Regions from separate parts of the Homo sapiens genome. Here region 2 is linked to region 1. Evidence: fine-mapped expression QTL. Tissue or cell type: whole blood. Region 1 holds a variant in brackets; the other region holds the start of a gene. All regions are shown on one strand. Distances are between the middles of the regions.

Region 1 (8,098 bases):
AGCCCTTCTTGGCCCTTCTCATTCATATCTCCAAGAATCTTAGACTCTCATATATTCCTTGTTTTCATATCTGTGTGCTGCATGTCATGAAATTTCCTCAGATATGCTTTATATTTTTCTTATTCCCCTTTGAGCTGCAACTAATTTGCTATATTCGCTGAGCTTCTATATTATACTGCAATGAGTATTTTTTGAAGGACTCTTTGATTTCTTTTGAAATCTACTTGTTATTTTAAAATAATATTTTTATTATGTCTTCCACTCTCTTTTCTATCTTAATTATTTTAAGTATACTTATTATTATGTAAGTATACTTATTATGTAAGTATACTTATTATTATGTAGTCTTTTACAAATTGTTCTAATATCTCTAGATCTAAGATCTCCCACTGACATAGTTGCTTGCTTTTTTGCGTCATTCATGATTACTTTTTATTGTGAGCTCATCTTCATCGGGGTTAATTTTCCTGTGGATCTGTGTCTGGGCTGTGAAAGTGTCCATGCAAAGTAGCTTGGAAGTAAGTTTCTTTCATGGCTGTATATACATTTTTCTTTTTTTTTGAGATGGAGTCTCGCTCTGTCCCCCAGGGTGGAGTGCAGTGGTGCCATCTCTGCTCACTGCAACCTCCACCTCCCGTGTTCAAGCGATTCTTCTGCCTCAGCCTCCCAAGTAGCTGGGACCACAGGTGTGTGCCACCACGCACGGCTAATTTTTGTATTTTTAGTAGAGACAGGGTTTCACCACGTTGACCAGGCTGGCCTTGAACTCCTGACCTCATGATCTGCCTACCACGGCCTCCTAAAGTGCTGGGATTATGGGTGTGAGCTACTACACCCAGCCATGGCTGTATATACATTTTTATGTTAATTTCTGGATTTGGAGTTTTAGAACTATTGGACTGTGTACATTTGAATCCACACTTAACTTTTTCCTGCCATTGCCTCAGGAGGATAGAAAGCTTCACTAGCACTTCTTTTTTTTAATTTTTTATTATTTTTTTTTGAGATTGAGTGTTGCTCTGTTGTCCAGGCTGGAGTGCAGTGATGTGATCTTGGCTCATGGCAACCTCCACCTCCCAAGCTCAAGCAAGATCCTTCCACCTCTGTCTCCTGAGTAGCTGGGACTACAGGTATGTGCCACCACTCCCAGCTAATTTTTGTATTTTTTGTAGAGATGGGGTTTTGCCATGTTGCCCAGGCTGGTCTTGAACTCCTGACCTCAAATGATCCACCTGCCTCAGCCTCCCAGAGTGCTGGGATTACAGGCATGAGCCACTACGTTGGCCTTGCTACTACTTTTTTCGGATCAGCTTTACACATCCCTTTTGTACAGAGCAGCCCTTCCAGCCCTGCAGTTTATTGAAGGGGGTCGGTTCCAGCTCGCCACCTCGGGGAGTCCAGGACTCATATCCTGGCCCTGTGTTCTGCCCTGATTCTGAAGTTTTTCCCGTTCTTTCTAGCCTAAGCCCCCAACCCTGGGCCTTGTGGCTCCAAGGTGCCTCACTTACGTTCCATGATACAGCTCCTGGATCTGCTCTTGAATAAAACCTCCCAGTTTCACCATCTCCCTTCCGGTCACAAGGGTGCTCTTTCCGGCTCCAGGCTCTGCAAGGCAGTTGTGCTCAGAGCCCCAGAGCAGGCCCTACAGCACAGATCCTGCAGACGGGCACAGCCTCCACCTCCCAAGAACTCCAGGCTCTGACTCATTAGTCAACTTAGTCCATAGCTTTCTAGCAAAAAAAAAAATTGTGACGCAGGCCAACTGAGACCTAGAACTTTTTAGTCATGGAAGCCAGGGTCTTTTGGTGCACCTGGATCACTGATTCTTGACCTAGGATAGTCTTGTACTCTCAGGAGACATTTGACATGTCTGCAGACATTTCTTTTAAGAGAAGGGGTCTCACTATGTCACCCACGCTGGAGTGCAGTGGTATGATCCTAGCTCACTGCAGCCTGAACCTCCTGGGCTTAAGCGATCCTCCTGCCTCAGCCTCTTGAGTAGCTGGAACTCCAGGTGTGCCCCGCCATACCTGGCTAATACTTATATTTTTTGAAGAGAGAGGGGTCTTGCTATGTTGCCCAGGCTGGTCTCGAACTCCTGGGCTCAAGAGATCCTCCCGTCTCTGCCTCCCAAAGTGCTAAGATTACAAGCATGAACCACCGTGCCCTGGAGACATTTTTGATCATTGCAATTGGTGGTGGTGATGGGAAAATTGTTCCTGGTGTCTAGTGGATATAGGCCAGAGATGCAGCTAAATATCTTATAATGCACGGAATGGCCCTAACAACACAGAAGTATCCAACCCCAAACACCCACAGTGAGTCCTGAATCCCGAGGGGGTGAGCCCTCTGTCCGCTCTGGGTAGAGGGATAGAGAAGCTGGCTAAGGCCCTATCCCAGGGTATTCCCTGTGGGGAAGCTTGGAGCTGAGGCTGGGACTGGAGGAAGGATGTCTTTCATCAGATCTGGAGGACGCCAGATATCCTGACTGCTCCCGGCTGGCACAGGGAGCCTCATCTGAGCCCACGAGCCAGGGTGCATCCCACATCCCACCCGATCTGCCCACGAGGCCTCCCACCCGGCCCCTCCCTGGTGCAGCCCTGCACACACGCGCCAGCCACACGCACGCCTGTGTGATGTGGTGAGCAGGCCCCGTATGATGTGGGGAACGGGCGTGTGGTCGTTGGAGCAGGCCAGGCCCTCCTGGGGGCGGTGAGGACATATCTCTGGTGCCATCTTTCCTGTTCTGATAAATAACTGATCTGTGGTTGAGGCAAGAAGGTCACCTCTGCCCAGGGAAGCTCAGGAACAAACCACTTGTGACCGGTGGGAAGAGCCCGGGGGGGCAGCGGGAAGTCTGTCTTCCCTGGCCACCGGGCTGCTGGGGGCAGATTTCAGAAAAGGGAAGTGCTGAGCTGGGGCAGTGCTTCCTGTGGTCGCGGCAGGCAGGGCATCAGGGCGGGCACGGCAAATCAGAGGGGTGACTGCCCTAGCTTGGAGGGGCAAGGAGCTGGGGTCCCTGGCTGGGCCCCATGTGCTGCCAGCCTTCATGCATTGGGCTGAAGGCCTGGGGGGGATGGAGGAACATACTAGAACACCAACAGCACTGAAGCTCCCCTGCTTGGGAGTGCCCCTGGGCTCCTCTCTGCACTCAGAGTGAAGTCCCCCTGGGCTTCGTGATTTGCTCCTCAGCCTCTGCTTCTCTGGCACCTGCTCGTCAAGTTCCCTCTGCATAGGGCCCCCTTCTCCCACCAGCTCTGAGCACTGGGGTCGGTGGAGGGGGCACCCCCTGCCCCTTCCCCTCTGCTAAGCCCGGAGCCCCTGGCTTGGCTGCTCTGGGAACCCTCTTCATCCCCAAAGGAAGGCCTGAGCCCAGGAGCCTGTGAGATCCTTCCCAGGCCCTGGCGCCCCTCTGGTGGGCAGCTGTCTGTACCCCTCTTCTATACTTAGGGGGGATCTGGTGCAGGGGCTTAGGAGCAAGGGAGGTGGCCGGGCCTCTGTAGTTCCTGGAGCTCCCATTTCCTCTTCCACTAAACTCTCAGCATCACCACATGACCCAGACTGTGAACCCAGGGGAGTGCTCGGTTGGGGAGGGGAGTGGAGGGAAACCGGCTCCCTCCTGTCCCAGCCCTGAGCACCAGCACTGCGGTTCCAGCTCCCTGCAGGCACTTCCTGCCTGCTCTGGGAAAGCACAGATGGCTGCCACGCCATCACAGCCCTGGGGTTGAGCCCAGACCCCCGAACCTTGACTGTCCAGCCCTGCCAGACCCCGTCAGGATCCACATAGACCCGATGGGTTGCTCTGTCTCCTTGGCTCTGGCCGAGTCCATGGACAAGGAGCATGGCTCCATCCGCCCCGCTCAGCTCTGTGCAGCCCACAGCCCTGCCTGCCCCACCTGAGGGTTGGGGCTCTCTGGACTGGTCAGGGGTGTGTGCTGTCCCTGCCACCCTGCCCCAGCTGAGGCCTGTACCTGGCAGGGGTCGAGCCAGTAAAATCATTGTCCTGCCCTAACCCATGGTGTCTAGGCAGTATGGGCAGGGCCAGGGAGGGCCCATCCAGCCTCGCACCCCACCACTCACCGTCTTGCTCTCTCCTTTTCACTCCCTCTGTCTCCTGACCTTGGGTCACCTCTTCCCTTTCTTGCTCTCACTCAGTCCCTTCTCTCTGTTTTTCTGTTTCTTATTTTGAGACAAAATCTCACTCTGTTGCCCAGGCTGGAGTGCAGTGGCAC[G/A]ATCTTGGCTCACTGCAACCTCCACCTCTTGGGCTCAAGCGATTCTCCTGCCTCAGCCTCCCGAGTAGCTGGGATTACAGGTGTGCGCCACCACGCCTGGCTAATTTTGTATTTTTAGTAGAGATGGGGTTTTGCCATGTTGACCAGGCTGGTCTTGAACTCCTGACCTCAAGTAATCTGCCTGCCTCAGCCTCCCAAAGTGCTGGGATTACAGGCATGAGCCACTGTGCCTGGCCTGTTTTTCTGTTTCTCTATCACTTTAGTAAGTCCTTCTAGCCCCCAGGACCCCCCAGCCCCTCTCTGTATCTGCACACATTTGTCAGTCTGTCCCTCCACCACTGTCCTTGTTTCCTCTCTCTTCCTCGTCACCCTGCCCTGACCTGGGGGGTTTGTGTCTCTCTGTCTCTCTCCGCCTGTCTCCATCTCCCCCTTATCCTCACTCTCTCTCTGTCTGTCTCTCATTTTCATTCTCTTTCCTTTCCTCTTTCTTTTTATTTTATTTGTATGGGTCCATAGCAGGTGCATATATCTACGGGGTACATGACATACTTTAATACAGGCATGCAATGTGTCATGATCCATCAGGGTTAATGGGGTCTCCGTCCCTCAAGCATTTATCTTTTCTCTGTGTTACAAACATTCTCATCATGCTCTTTTAATTATTTTTAAATGTACAGTAAATTCTTGGTGACTGTCATCACCCTGTTGTGCTATTAAATACTGAATCTTTTTTTTAAAAAAATTATTTTAAGTTCTGGGATACATGTGCAGGACGTGCAGATTTGTTACATAGGTCAACGCGTGCCATGGTGGTTTGCTGCACAGATCAACCCATCACCTGGGTATTAAGGCCTGCATGCATCAATCCTGGATCTTAGTCATTCTACCTAACCATATTTTTGCACCCGTCGACCATTCCCGCTGCCCTCCCCTCCCTCTCTTTCTCCCCCTCTCTCATTCTCTCCCCATTTTCATTTTCTCTCTCTCTTCTCATTCTCTTTCTTCCTCTCTCTGTCTCTGCCTCTGCAATCACCCCTGGTCTTCGCCCTCCCTGTCTCTGCTCCCCGGAGTCCCTGCACGTGGCTTGACAGTGGCCTTGGTAGGACCCACTGGGGTGTTTCTTCGTCGCCCATGGGCCCTCATGCTGTTATCAGTTGGAAATGAATCAGAGATTAGGAAGCGGGGGGAGTGGTGGGGGTGTTATCGCCCAGTGCACACGGGGCTCTCAGCTAATCTCTGGCGGCCCTGGGTTCGAGAGGAAATGCAGTTGCAACACTGAGTCCTTCTTACCGTCACTGTCATGTCCGCGGCGAGGCTGTGGGGGACACGGGCAAGAGATTGGAGAGGGGAGAGGGAGAGGAGAGAGGGCCTGGCCTGAGCTCCTGGCAGGCGTTTGTACAGGCTCACGTGCACACGTGTGCACACACAGCATGTACACCTCCTGGCCCTTGACACCTGAGCCGTCGCCAGGCCTTGCCTGTCACCCTTCCATTGCCTCTGCATGCCCGCACCTGTCCACGTCTTCCCCTGCCGCCCCACGTCCCCAGCCACCATCTCTCTTCATGGGATGGCAGCTCTGGCCTCATCCAGGCTCTTAGCCAACAGAGTGGCCATATTATTATTATTATTTTATTTTATTTTATTTTTTTGAGATGGAGTCTTGCTCTGTCGCCCAGGCTGGAGTGCAGTGGTGCAGTGTCAGCTCACTGCAAGCTCCGCCTCCCAGGTTCACGCCATTCTCCTGCCTCAGCCTCCCGAGTAGCTGGGACTACAGGTGCCCGCCACCACCCCCGGCTAATTTTTTGTATTTTTAGTGGAGATGGGGTTTCACTGTGTTAGCCGGGATGGTCTCGATCTCCTGACCTCGTGATCTGCCCGCCTTGGCCTCCCAAAGTGCTGGGATTACAGGCGTGAGCCACCGTGCCCGGCCCAGAATGGTCGTATTATTAAATGACCACATGATCGGGCTGCTTTCCGAACTTCACCTTCCCACGGTTCTAGGAAGCAGCCACCATTATCATGGTGGCCTCCAGGCTTGCGTGTCTAGCTCCTGTCCTTCCTGCCCTCACCTCCCACACCCCTTGGCTTCCTAGCACCTGCAGTTCTGCCTCGACCCCTCCTCAGTGCCCCGGCTTTTGCAAATGCTCTCCCCTCTGCCTGGAAAACTCTCCTCCCCATGACAACTCCCATGCCTCCTATGGCACTCGGCTTTCCTGTCCTTCATGAAAGCATCCAGGGTCCCCGAGTGCCAAGCTGCAGCAGGTCCCTTGTCTCGGGGCTTCCACCCTCGAGGCGTGAGCTCCCCCTGTCACCATCCTGCCTAGGGATTATGGGTGTAATTCCTACTTCCTGCTCACCTCCTGCCAGACTGTGGGCCTGATGGGGCAGGGACCGAGCCCTCCAGTCTGTCTAGGGCCTGGCCGCACCAGGCAGTGATTGAATGAACAGATCCATAAACACACCGAGAGACACGGATGTACCCAGGCCCATGCACAGACACACAAATGCAGTCACCAGCCATGCACGGAAACTCACATTGACAGACGCTCAACCTCACAAACGTGCAAACCAAAGTTACCTAGAGACGCACGCAGTGACCAAGACACACACACGCCCACTGTCTTCTGTCTATGCTCTGGGCTCACTGCCTCTCATCCAGCCCTGCCCCTCGGGCAGGATCCCCTGCGGGTGTGGGCCTCCTGCACTGCAGCCCTGGCCTTAGCTCCAGGGGGCCAATCCCATGTTATGGGCCCCCAGCAGGATTCTCTGGGCCCCAGCCGTGGTCTTGCCACGTGACTACTTACAAGTGGCTTTTATGCTAAATGCACATAATAGCACATTGGCATAATATCATTGCCAATACTCACAGGTACCATGGTTCACACAGGGAGCATGGTGTGAAGCTCCTCTTACAGGGCTTGTTAGAGGAAAGTTCCAGCTCAGGCAAAGGCTTGGGGTGGAGCGGACAAAGCTACAGTTTGGCCTTTTCCTCAGCAGCGTCCTGCTTCTAGAATCACCACTAAAGTTAACCCAGGCGAGGGGTTCTCTCCCAGCCTCCAGGAGGCTCCAGCTGGAGGCAAACCGCCGGTCTGGGAGAGGTACAGTGGCCAGGGAGAGGAAGGGTTTCAGGGTGGTGTGGGTGGTAGGGGCTGAAGGCAGGGGCAGCAGGGCAGGGCCTGGAGGCCAGCAGCACAGAGGGTCCCCACCTGGCTTCATTTTGGGGGAGGGGGCTGGGCAGGGTATCTGGCGGAGGAAGCAAGAAGGGGTGGCCTCAGAGACTGGCTTGCGGAGATGGGGCTGCATTCCCTGTGGAAGGGAGTGGGCCTTCACGGCTTCAAGGCCGTTTGTCACCTAAAGCAGCTACGGGCATCTTCTCTCTTCCCTCTTTCTTTTTAGAGACAGTGTCTCACTCTGTCTCCCAGGCTGGAGTGCTGGGGTGCGATCATAGCTCACCGCAGCTGCAAACTGCCGGGCTCAAGTGATCCTCCCACCTCAGCCTCCTGAGTAGCTGAGACTACAGGTGGGCACCACCATGCCCAGCCAATTTCTGTATTTTTTGTAGAGATGGCTGTGTTGCCCAGGCTAGTCTCAAAGTCCTGGCCTTAAGCAATTCTCCTGCCTCAGCCTCTTAAAGCACTGGTATTAGAAGAGTGAGCCATGGCGCCCTGCCTCTCTTAAAGATGGCTTTAACCATCACTTACAGCACAGCTGCATCCCTCCTTGGCGGGGTGGGGGAGATTCTTTCCCACCTCTCTGAGTGTCCCCATCTGGGTCCTTGCTCAGTGAGAGCCAGACTTTCTGCTATAACCAGGCCCTGAATGAGAGAGAACCAGAGTCATGTGCTGTGCACCAAATGCAGTGGGAAG
Region 2 (8,098 bases), 40 kb after region 1:
CACCCTGGAACTCAGGACCAGGAGGAGGACTCGGGGTAGGAGGGATCCCTTCCGGGAGCCATCAGCTTTAAAAGAGGAAGCCCCTAGCGGGCTGGCACAGCAGAGAGGAGGGGAAGGAGTGAGGGCAGGAGGGTCGCCCCACCCCCTCCCGTCCTAGGACCTGTTCTGGGGGGAAAGGGGGAAGCCAGGGATCAGCCCCCTCAAACAAGAAAAACTGGAATTAGCACTGAACTCAGAGGGTTTGCTGGGGCTTAGCAAGCTGCGACCTGCCCCAGGCCTCGGGGCACGCGGCGGGGCTCTGCCTCCTCTGTTCCCAGGGTGGCGGGGCAGGCGCCGCCTCCTCACTGGGCTCGTGGCCTCTCCTCTGCCAAGGGCGGCCGTGGGTGAGGAGGCGGCCAGACACAGGACAGAGTGGGGGGCCGGAAGGGGTGCCAGCTAACCACGCAGGCAGGTAAAGCTAAGCTTCCAGAGTGTAAAAGGAATGTGTAATTTCTCGAAAATGCCCCAGCCCGCATTGGTACACACAGTAAGCCACTCAGTGAACATTCTCTCGGTACAGAGTTAAAAAAAAAAGAAAAGTGCAATTTATCTTTTACCCTCCGTGAGGGTAAAATCTGAAAAGCACCATCAGCCTCCTGGGCCTCTTTCTCCCGGGCCTTGTTAGTTCAGGGATAAGGGCTGCCCTCCCTTGCTTGGCTGTCACTGCTGCTAAGGGGGTGCCGGAGTGCCTGACCTTACAGGGTGCTCATTGGAGTTGGGGGCACACCAGCACTCAGTCCCCTGCTGGGTCTGGGATGAATGCAGTGGGGAGTGTGGATGCTGGGTGGGTTCTTGAACAGCCAGTGTGTGGGGCAGGACCAGACCCCTGTTGCAGGCCTGCCTCAGCCCCCTTTCTTGTGAGGGCTGGGGCTGGGCAGGTGTGGAGGGCTGGATGGAGGGGTCTCTCTCTTCAGGCTGCCTTCGGGCCTCGCAGGGGTAGGGTGTAGCCACATGGTCTAGGGAAAGAGGAGAGGGTTGGAGGGTCCTACCACTGGAGGCCTCTTCCTGCTGGCCGAGGGTCCTGCTGGAATCTGGAGCTGCGGTGTGTGTGAGTGGCCAGGGCTGCAGCTGTAGGTGATTTGCAAGGAAGTCTGCACAAAGGGCTCCTTGAGCCTAGGGCTGCTTAGCCAGGCCTACCCCTCAGGCAGAGGACTCCCTCTCCTCCTCCCCGGGGCAGATAAGAAGCCTCGCCAAGGCCTCAGCCCAGTAACCCCTTCAGCCCCCTCCCCTGACCCCAAGAGACTGCCTTCAGGCTCTGGACATACTCCATTTGGAGCCTTGTCCTCTGCTATTTATTTGTCTTGCCTGGGGGAAGTAAGTCACCCCCTTAGGGTAAGAGGGGCTCAGGATGGATGGAGAGCTCATGAAAGTCAGGATTGCCGCCAGGGAAAATGCTGTATTATTTACAAATGTGACCTGGCCCACAGACAACCTTGGAAGTAGCTTCTTTCTGGTTTTAAAAAGACACCGACATTGACTTTGATATGTTTATATTATAGATATAATACATAAAACATCTAGAGTGAGACTCTACGTTCTCCCCAAAAGAAGAGAACCAAGCCGTCCTTCCCTGCTCCCAGCCCCAGTGATGCGTTGGCGGGAGGCCACCTCCCTTCCCGACCAGGAGCCAGGGCCTCTGGGGGACAAGCCTTGTGGGCAGCCCAGGCCGGAGGGGCTGGGGAAAGCTGAGGGCAAAGGAGAACCCCCCTCACCTCATTGGTCCCCCAGGATCAAAAGTAATCCCAAAACCAAAAGGAAAGGGAGTCTCAGACCCTTCCCCCAGCTGCCGACGGAGAGTCTCATTTTGGCAAGTATCCGAGCAAAACCAAAACAAAACAAAAACCAAATAAAATGGTGGTTTAGCAGAGACGCGCACATTCACATTGCACAAGGCACTGCTGGGGCACAGAGGCCAGATACAAGTGTTGATATCGGCTGATAAAGCAAAATATTTGGAAAGCTTGTCATAACTCCGGTCCCTCTGGGATGGACTGATCGTGCTTCGTGTTCCTAGGCAATGCTGAAGGCATACAGTACAAACAAGGCTGAGGGTCCCAGTGGCCCTTCACCCCCCATGCCCGCCCCACAGCCAGATCTCTAGGTCTCCCTCTCCCACCAGGGGTATACATCCTCAGAGCTGACCCACGACCTAGCTTTCTGGTGTGACTCGGGGTGGGGGCTCCCACTGGTCACCTGGTGACCCCCATCGCAGTGAGTTCCGCCCCAAGGGGAAGCCCAGCCTATAGCAGGCTGGGGTGGGGTGTGTGCGGAGGGAGGTGGGAGAGGCGTGGAACTAGAGACCCTCCACCTTCATGTAGAACTAGGGGAACAACCTTAGGTTCCAAGCCCCAAGTCCCTATGTTTCCACCCCTTTCTAAGGACAGGCGTGGAGGAGCGGCTGGGGCTGGCGGGCTTGTCGGGATCTCAGCTCCCTGAGCCCTCCTCCTGCCACGGGCCTGCTCCCCTCCTTCTCTCATGGGGGTCTGCTGTAGCCTCGGGAAGGAGGCAGGAAACCTCCAAATAAAATGACAAGGCACGATTTGCTCCCCCTACTCAGTAGGCATTGGAGCGGTGAGTTTGCATTTCCAAGGCACAAGGTTATCCTAAATACTAGAGTTGCCGGGCTCCCAGCTCAGCCCCAAGAATTCTCCCCTCCTCGCAGGGAGAAGCCACCGCCTGGCCCCCTCATCTTAGACGCACCAAGTCCGGCGCAGAGGAAGGGAGGGGACACGCGGAGCAGGCCAGGCTTTCAGGAGGCACCGGAATCTCCTAGTCCTGGCTCGCACGGCTCGGGCAAGCCTCGAGATCCGGCGACCCCAAACCACTCCCTGGGTCCCCGCCGGAGGCTGGCCCAGGGCGGTCCCACAGCCGCGCGCCTCACGCGCAGTTGCCCATGGCCTTGACCAAGGAGCTCTCTGGCAGCTGGCGGAAGATGCCCCGCAGCGTGTCCAGTTCGCGGCTCAGCTGTTCCACCCGCTTGCGCAGGCGGTCATTGTCACTGGTCAGCTCCAGCACCTTCTGCTGCGTCTCCACGTTGCGCTGCTTGGCCTTGTCGCGGCTCTTGCGCACCGCGATGTTGTTGCGCTCGCGCCGCACCCGGTACTCGTTGCTGTTCTTGTCCACCGACTTCTTGGCCTTGCCCGCGCCGCTGCCGCCACTCGCGCGGAGGTCGGGGTGCGCGGCGCCCAGCCCCTTGAGCGCGCTGCCAGGGCCCGGCAGGCCGGCGGCACCGAGCGCGGGCGCGGGGTGCGGGCTGGGCACGGGCGTGGGCGGCGGCGTGGGGTGACCGGGCTGCAGGTGCATGGTGGTCTGGCCGCAGTGCGCGATCTGGAACTGCAGGTGCGGGGCGGCCAGGTGCGCGGGCGGCGGGTGCGGGTGCGGGTGCGAGGGCGGCGGCGGCGGCGGCGGCTGGTAAGGGAAGAGGCCGGCCAGCGCCAGCTGCTTGGCTTCATCCTCCTCGCGGGGCTCCTGCTTGATCACCAGCGGCCGCAGCGCCGGCGCCCCGACGCGCTCGTACAGGGGCTCCAGCCTGCCGTCCAGGTAGCCGGCGGCCGCGCAGCCGTAGCCGGGCGGGGGCCCGTGCGCTCCCCCGGGCATGACGGCGCCGCCGGGGCCCGCGGGCGCGCCCGGGTAGTCAAAGTCGCCGCCGCCGCCGCCGCCCGTGGGGCCCACGGCCGCCTTGGCCTTCTCCTGCTGCCGGCTGTGCTGGAACAGGTCGGCCAGGAACTCGTCGTTGAAGGCGGCCGGGTCGATGTAGGCGCTGATGTCGATGGACGTCTCGTGCTCGCAGATGCCGCCCAGCGGCTCCGGGGCGGCAGGTGGGGCGGGAGGCTGCGCGGGGCCCGCGCCCCGGGGAAAGCCGAAGGCGGCGCTGCTGGGCGCGTGCGGGGGGCTCTGCAGGTGGCTGCTCATCGGGGGCCGCGGCTCCGCCTCGTAGAAGTCGGCCGACTCCATGGGGGAGTTAGAGTTCTCCCGGCATGGCGAGCCTCGGCGGCCTCCAGCCTGCGCGGGGCGTCGCCGCCGCCCACCCGGAGACCCTGCTCGCCCGCGCCCGCGCACCTCCGGGTCGCGAATGGCCCGGCCCGCGCCGGCCCAGCTTTTATACCCGGCAGGCCGCGTCGCCCCCTAGAGTCCGAGGCGGCCTCTGTCCCCGGGCTGCGGCGGCGCGGCGCCTGCTGGGTCCTAGCGCGCGGCCGGCATGGGGCGGCGAACCAGCGCGGCACAGCGCCGCGCTCCCCAGGCAGGCCGCGGCGCAACGCCCACCGCCTCCAGCGCGCCCAGCAGAGCCGCGGCGCTCGCTCCAAGCTCCGCCCCCGGCCCGGCCGTCGCCCCCGCGCCCACGTGGTCGGTAGCGGGGGCCCCCTCCTCCTGCCTGCCCTAGGCGCCCGTATCCAGCCACGGCCGGGAGCCCAGGAGTATCCCGAGGCTGCACGGGGTAGGGGTGGGGGGCGGAGGGCGAGTCTTGGTCTTGAGCTGCTGGGGCGCGGATTCTCTTTCAAAGCCAGAACCAGGCCTGTCCCGGACCCGCGTCCCGGGGAGGCTGCAGCGCAGAGCAGCGGGGCTGGGGCCGGTGGGGGGCCGTTTGGGACGCGCGGAGAGGTCCTGAGCGCGGTGGCTCTGCGTCTCCTAGCTCTGATCTCCAGGCTACCCCTGTGATTCCGCGCAGAGGTACCTCTCGGAGGACGCCGGGGTCCCATGGGCGGCGCCGCGCAGGGCGCTAGGACCCCGCGGGGAGCGGAGGCGGCCTCGGCCCGGGAGCCTGGAGGACCTGGCCGGTCGATCCGCCCGGGCTGGAAAACTTTCTTTATAATTACTTCTCCAGGTCGGAGCGCGCGGCTTGCTAGGCGCGCGGGGCCGGCGCTGTTACCCGGCGTGGAGTCGCCGATTTTTTTTCCTGCGGGACCGCGGGGCCCCCCAGACTAGCGGAGCTGGACGCCGGGGCGAGCACGGGGAGGGGCGCACCGAGGGAGGAGACAAACTTAACTCTGGGGCCGGGATTCCGAGGCGGGGGCCGCAGCCCTCGAGGCCCGAAGCCACCGCTTCCTCCCCCGCCTCCCCATTCAGGTGGGCGCCAACGGCGGGAGCGAGGGTGTCCAGGCCGCCGGGCTGCCAGGTCCGAGCACGCACAGGGAGAACTCTGCCCAGTGGTTCGCCGGGCGCTGTAGTCCCCGGGATCCTAGGGACCGAGGCGGCCAGGCCCTGGGGCCCCTTGAGTGCGGCAGCTAATGCTCTCACCGCGGCGGGGGAAGGAGCTTGCCACCGAGACCCCCAGCCACGTGCGTCCCTCGCATTCTTTACCGGGGCCGGGGTGGCGGCTACGGACCGTCAGCTGGGCCCAGATGGAGTCTTGGGAGCCCTCAAGTGTCTCCTGTCCTTGCCCGCGCCGCCCCTCGCCACTGGCGCTGAGGCCTGACGCCGCCTGCGTCCCGGCTAGAGGCGCGCTTGCCTACAGGTGAGGGAAGACCCCCTTCACCGACAGTGGCCTTAGGCCTGGCAAGGCGCCACGACCCGCCCAGGAGCCCCGGAGGGGGCACAGCTAAAAACACCGCTGGAGAGCCCCGAGCTTCCACGACGATCGCAGTAAAGAAGCAGTTTCATCTGGGCAACGCACACTGCGCTTTAATCAAGTTCCTATTCAACATAGTCCCAGTGATTAATAGCCCAACTGCTTCGTTTTCGGTCCAGAGCTCATAAACAAGATATTTTTAGCTTGACGCTTTTGGACGGGAGGGAGTAAAAACCAGATACGTTAAATAAATATCCCGATGTGAGCCGGAGAGCTGCTTGCTGAGCCAAATGCAGGACCCATTCATATAGCATTCACCTGTGGAGGGAGACCTGGACGGAAATCAAAAAGCACCAAGAGCGATTTGCGTTTTTTTCTGCGGTGCTAAAACTAATGGCTTTTCCTACCTAGGAACAAAGAAACGCCACTGTACATGCACGGTTCCCGGCCTGTGGAGTTGTGGGAGGAAGGCGATGTCTGGCCTTTTTTGCACAGCTGCTGTTGCCTGCCCAGAGATCGGGAACTCTGCCCCGTAGGACTGGAAGAAACCTCAGTAATGGGAATAAGACTTTGTCCAATAGGGGGCTGATGAATGTGTGGGGGCGACAATGGCAAGGAGTGGGACTCCCGGCCCGGGGTTCGCCAACCCCAGGGGCCACAGGTCCTCCTACAATTGAACCAGAATTCACCCACCCGGGCCTGCCCTGTGCAGGGTGCCGAGAGCCCAGGGATGCATGAGAGGGTGGCTCCTGCCTCTGGGAACTGGGACAGTGGGAGAGACGGATAAGTTGTCACACAGAGGCTGCTGGGAGGAAGGAGGAGACAGAAGGAGTAGGGGATGGGACTTCATTCATTCATCAAATGCACACGAGGCACAAATGGGAATCAAGGGTGGATGTGCTGTGATGAAGAGAAGTCCTGCCCTGAACAAGGTGGCGCTGTGGAGGAGGCAGAGATCAGATTTGTCTGCGGAGGTGTTATGGACTGAACTGTGTCCCTGCCCCAAATTCCTATGTTGAAGGCCTAACCCCCATGTGACTGTATTTGGAGATAAGGCTTTTAGGAAGTCATTAAAGTGAGATGATGTCATATGGGTAGGGTCCTAATTTGATAGGATTGGTGGCCTTATCAGAAGAACAATGTCATGGGCATGCACAGAAAGGAGGTGGCCGTCTGCAAGCAGGGAAGAGGCCCCTCACCAGAACCTGAGGGTGCTGGCAGCTTGGCTTTGGCCTTGGGCATCCAGCCTCCAGAACCATGAGAAATAAATGTTTATGGTAGGTCTATGATGGCAGCCTGCTTGGACTGAACCGGCGGTGAGACAGGGCTTCATGCAGGAGCAGACCTTTGAGCTGGGCCTTGAAAGTTGAGCAGGAATTTGCTGGAAGGATAAGGGAGGAAGGCTCTTCTAGGAGGAGGGAATGGTAAGTGCAAAGGTGGAGAGCCTGCCAGTGCATGTGTTCTGGTAACAAAGAACGAGATGGTTGGCCGGCTGGAGAGTGGGGTGAGGGAGGGTGGGGCCTAGATAAGGCTGGATCCGCAGACAGGGCTGGGCTGATGGCCAAGGCCACTGCAGGTGAAGGGGGAACCCTTATCTCCCAGGCTTTTGACCTCCAGATTTTAGCAGGGGAGCTTCGTTGTCGGATTTGGGTTCCTGAGAATCTACTCTGGCCAAGACGGAGAGGGGGTGTTGACCAGATGGGAAAGGATGGAGACTTGTATTGCCCCAGTAATGAGCGGGCAGGGTAGATTAGAACAAGATGTCAGGACTTGGGGGCTGAATGCCAGGCTTCTGGCTGGGATTACCACCCCCTGACACATATAATGCCCAGGAAATTGGAGGCCCCTCTCCAAGCCCCCAGGAGGCCACTGGGGACTCATTCCAGGATACTCACCTGCCTGCTTTGTGGTTTTGGAGGGGAAGACCTTGGAGCAGTTGCGAAGATCCATCTACCATGTTCTGGTTTTTCCTTGGAAGCCTAAAAGTGTACCTCGGGATGAGGAGGAAATGGTTTTGAGGGCAAGTGGTAGGTCTCTGGCTAGGCCTGGCGGGGTTCTCAGAGGACAGGGGGTGTCTAGGGCCCTAGATAGAAGTGTCCTGCCCAAGCCCTAAAGCAGGAAATTAGCTGGGGAGTTGGGGTGAGACCCTGGGGTCGATGGAGGCACTTTCCATGGGAGAGTCCCACAGGGTAAGGGAGAGGGGGCTGATGTCTGACAGTCTCATAGACAGTTGGCTTGTGGCTGGAGAAGTGGGAGCAAAGGAGAAATCACCTTTGATTGGGAGAAGTGGCTCTGGCTCATGTGCAACTGAGACAAAGCCAGTCCTAAGAGCAGCTTGTAAATTCTTCTGTGACCACCTTTAAGGTCCTTCTTCCTGAGGCTGTGGATGGGGGTGTACACAGGCCCAGTGTGGGGGGTTGAGCGTGAGTCCCCGGGAAACGGTGGTCCTGAGTTTTGGATGCTCCAGGATGAAGCCTGATTCTGGAGTCAATCACAGCACTAACCATTTTGAGAAGACAAACAGAGCCCTAGAAATGTTTTATTTTACTTTGG

Evidence for each region. PIP is the estimated chance that this variant, and not a neighbour inherited with it, causes the effect.
Region 2: CEBPA starts here. The variant in region 1 is fine-mapped to the expression of CEBPA in whole blood (INTERVAL, PIP 0.95).

Annotation. Positions count from the first base shown.
Region 1 is chr19:33,258,105-33,266,202 of GRCh38, forward strand. No RefSeq gene overlaps it. Among named protein-coding and RNA genes, the nearest start is that of SLC7A10, 36 kb to the left of the region's middle. The variant G/A (reference allele first, on the strand shown) is at 4,233.
Region 2 is chr19:33,298,422-33,306,519 of GRCh38, forward strand. CEBPA (CCAAT enhancer binding protein alpha) reads right to left here and starts at 4,113. Exons shown (of 1, transcript NM_004364.5): 1 at 1,513-4,113. The coding sequence starts at 3,993. The coding sequence ends at 2,917. It overlaps CEBPA-DT (CEBPA divergent transcript), which reads left to right and starts at 4,400. Exons shown (of 1, transcript NR_026887.2): 1 at 4,400-6,636. RefSeq lists silencers at 3,944-4,513, 4,594-4,853.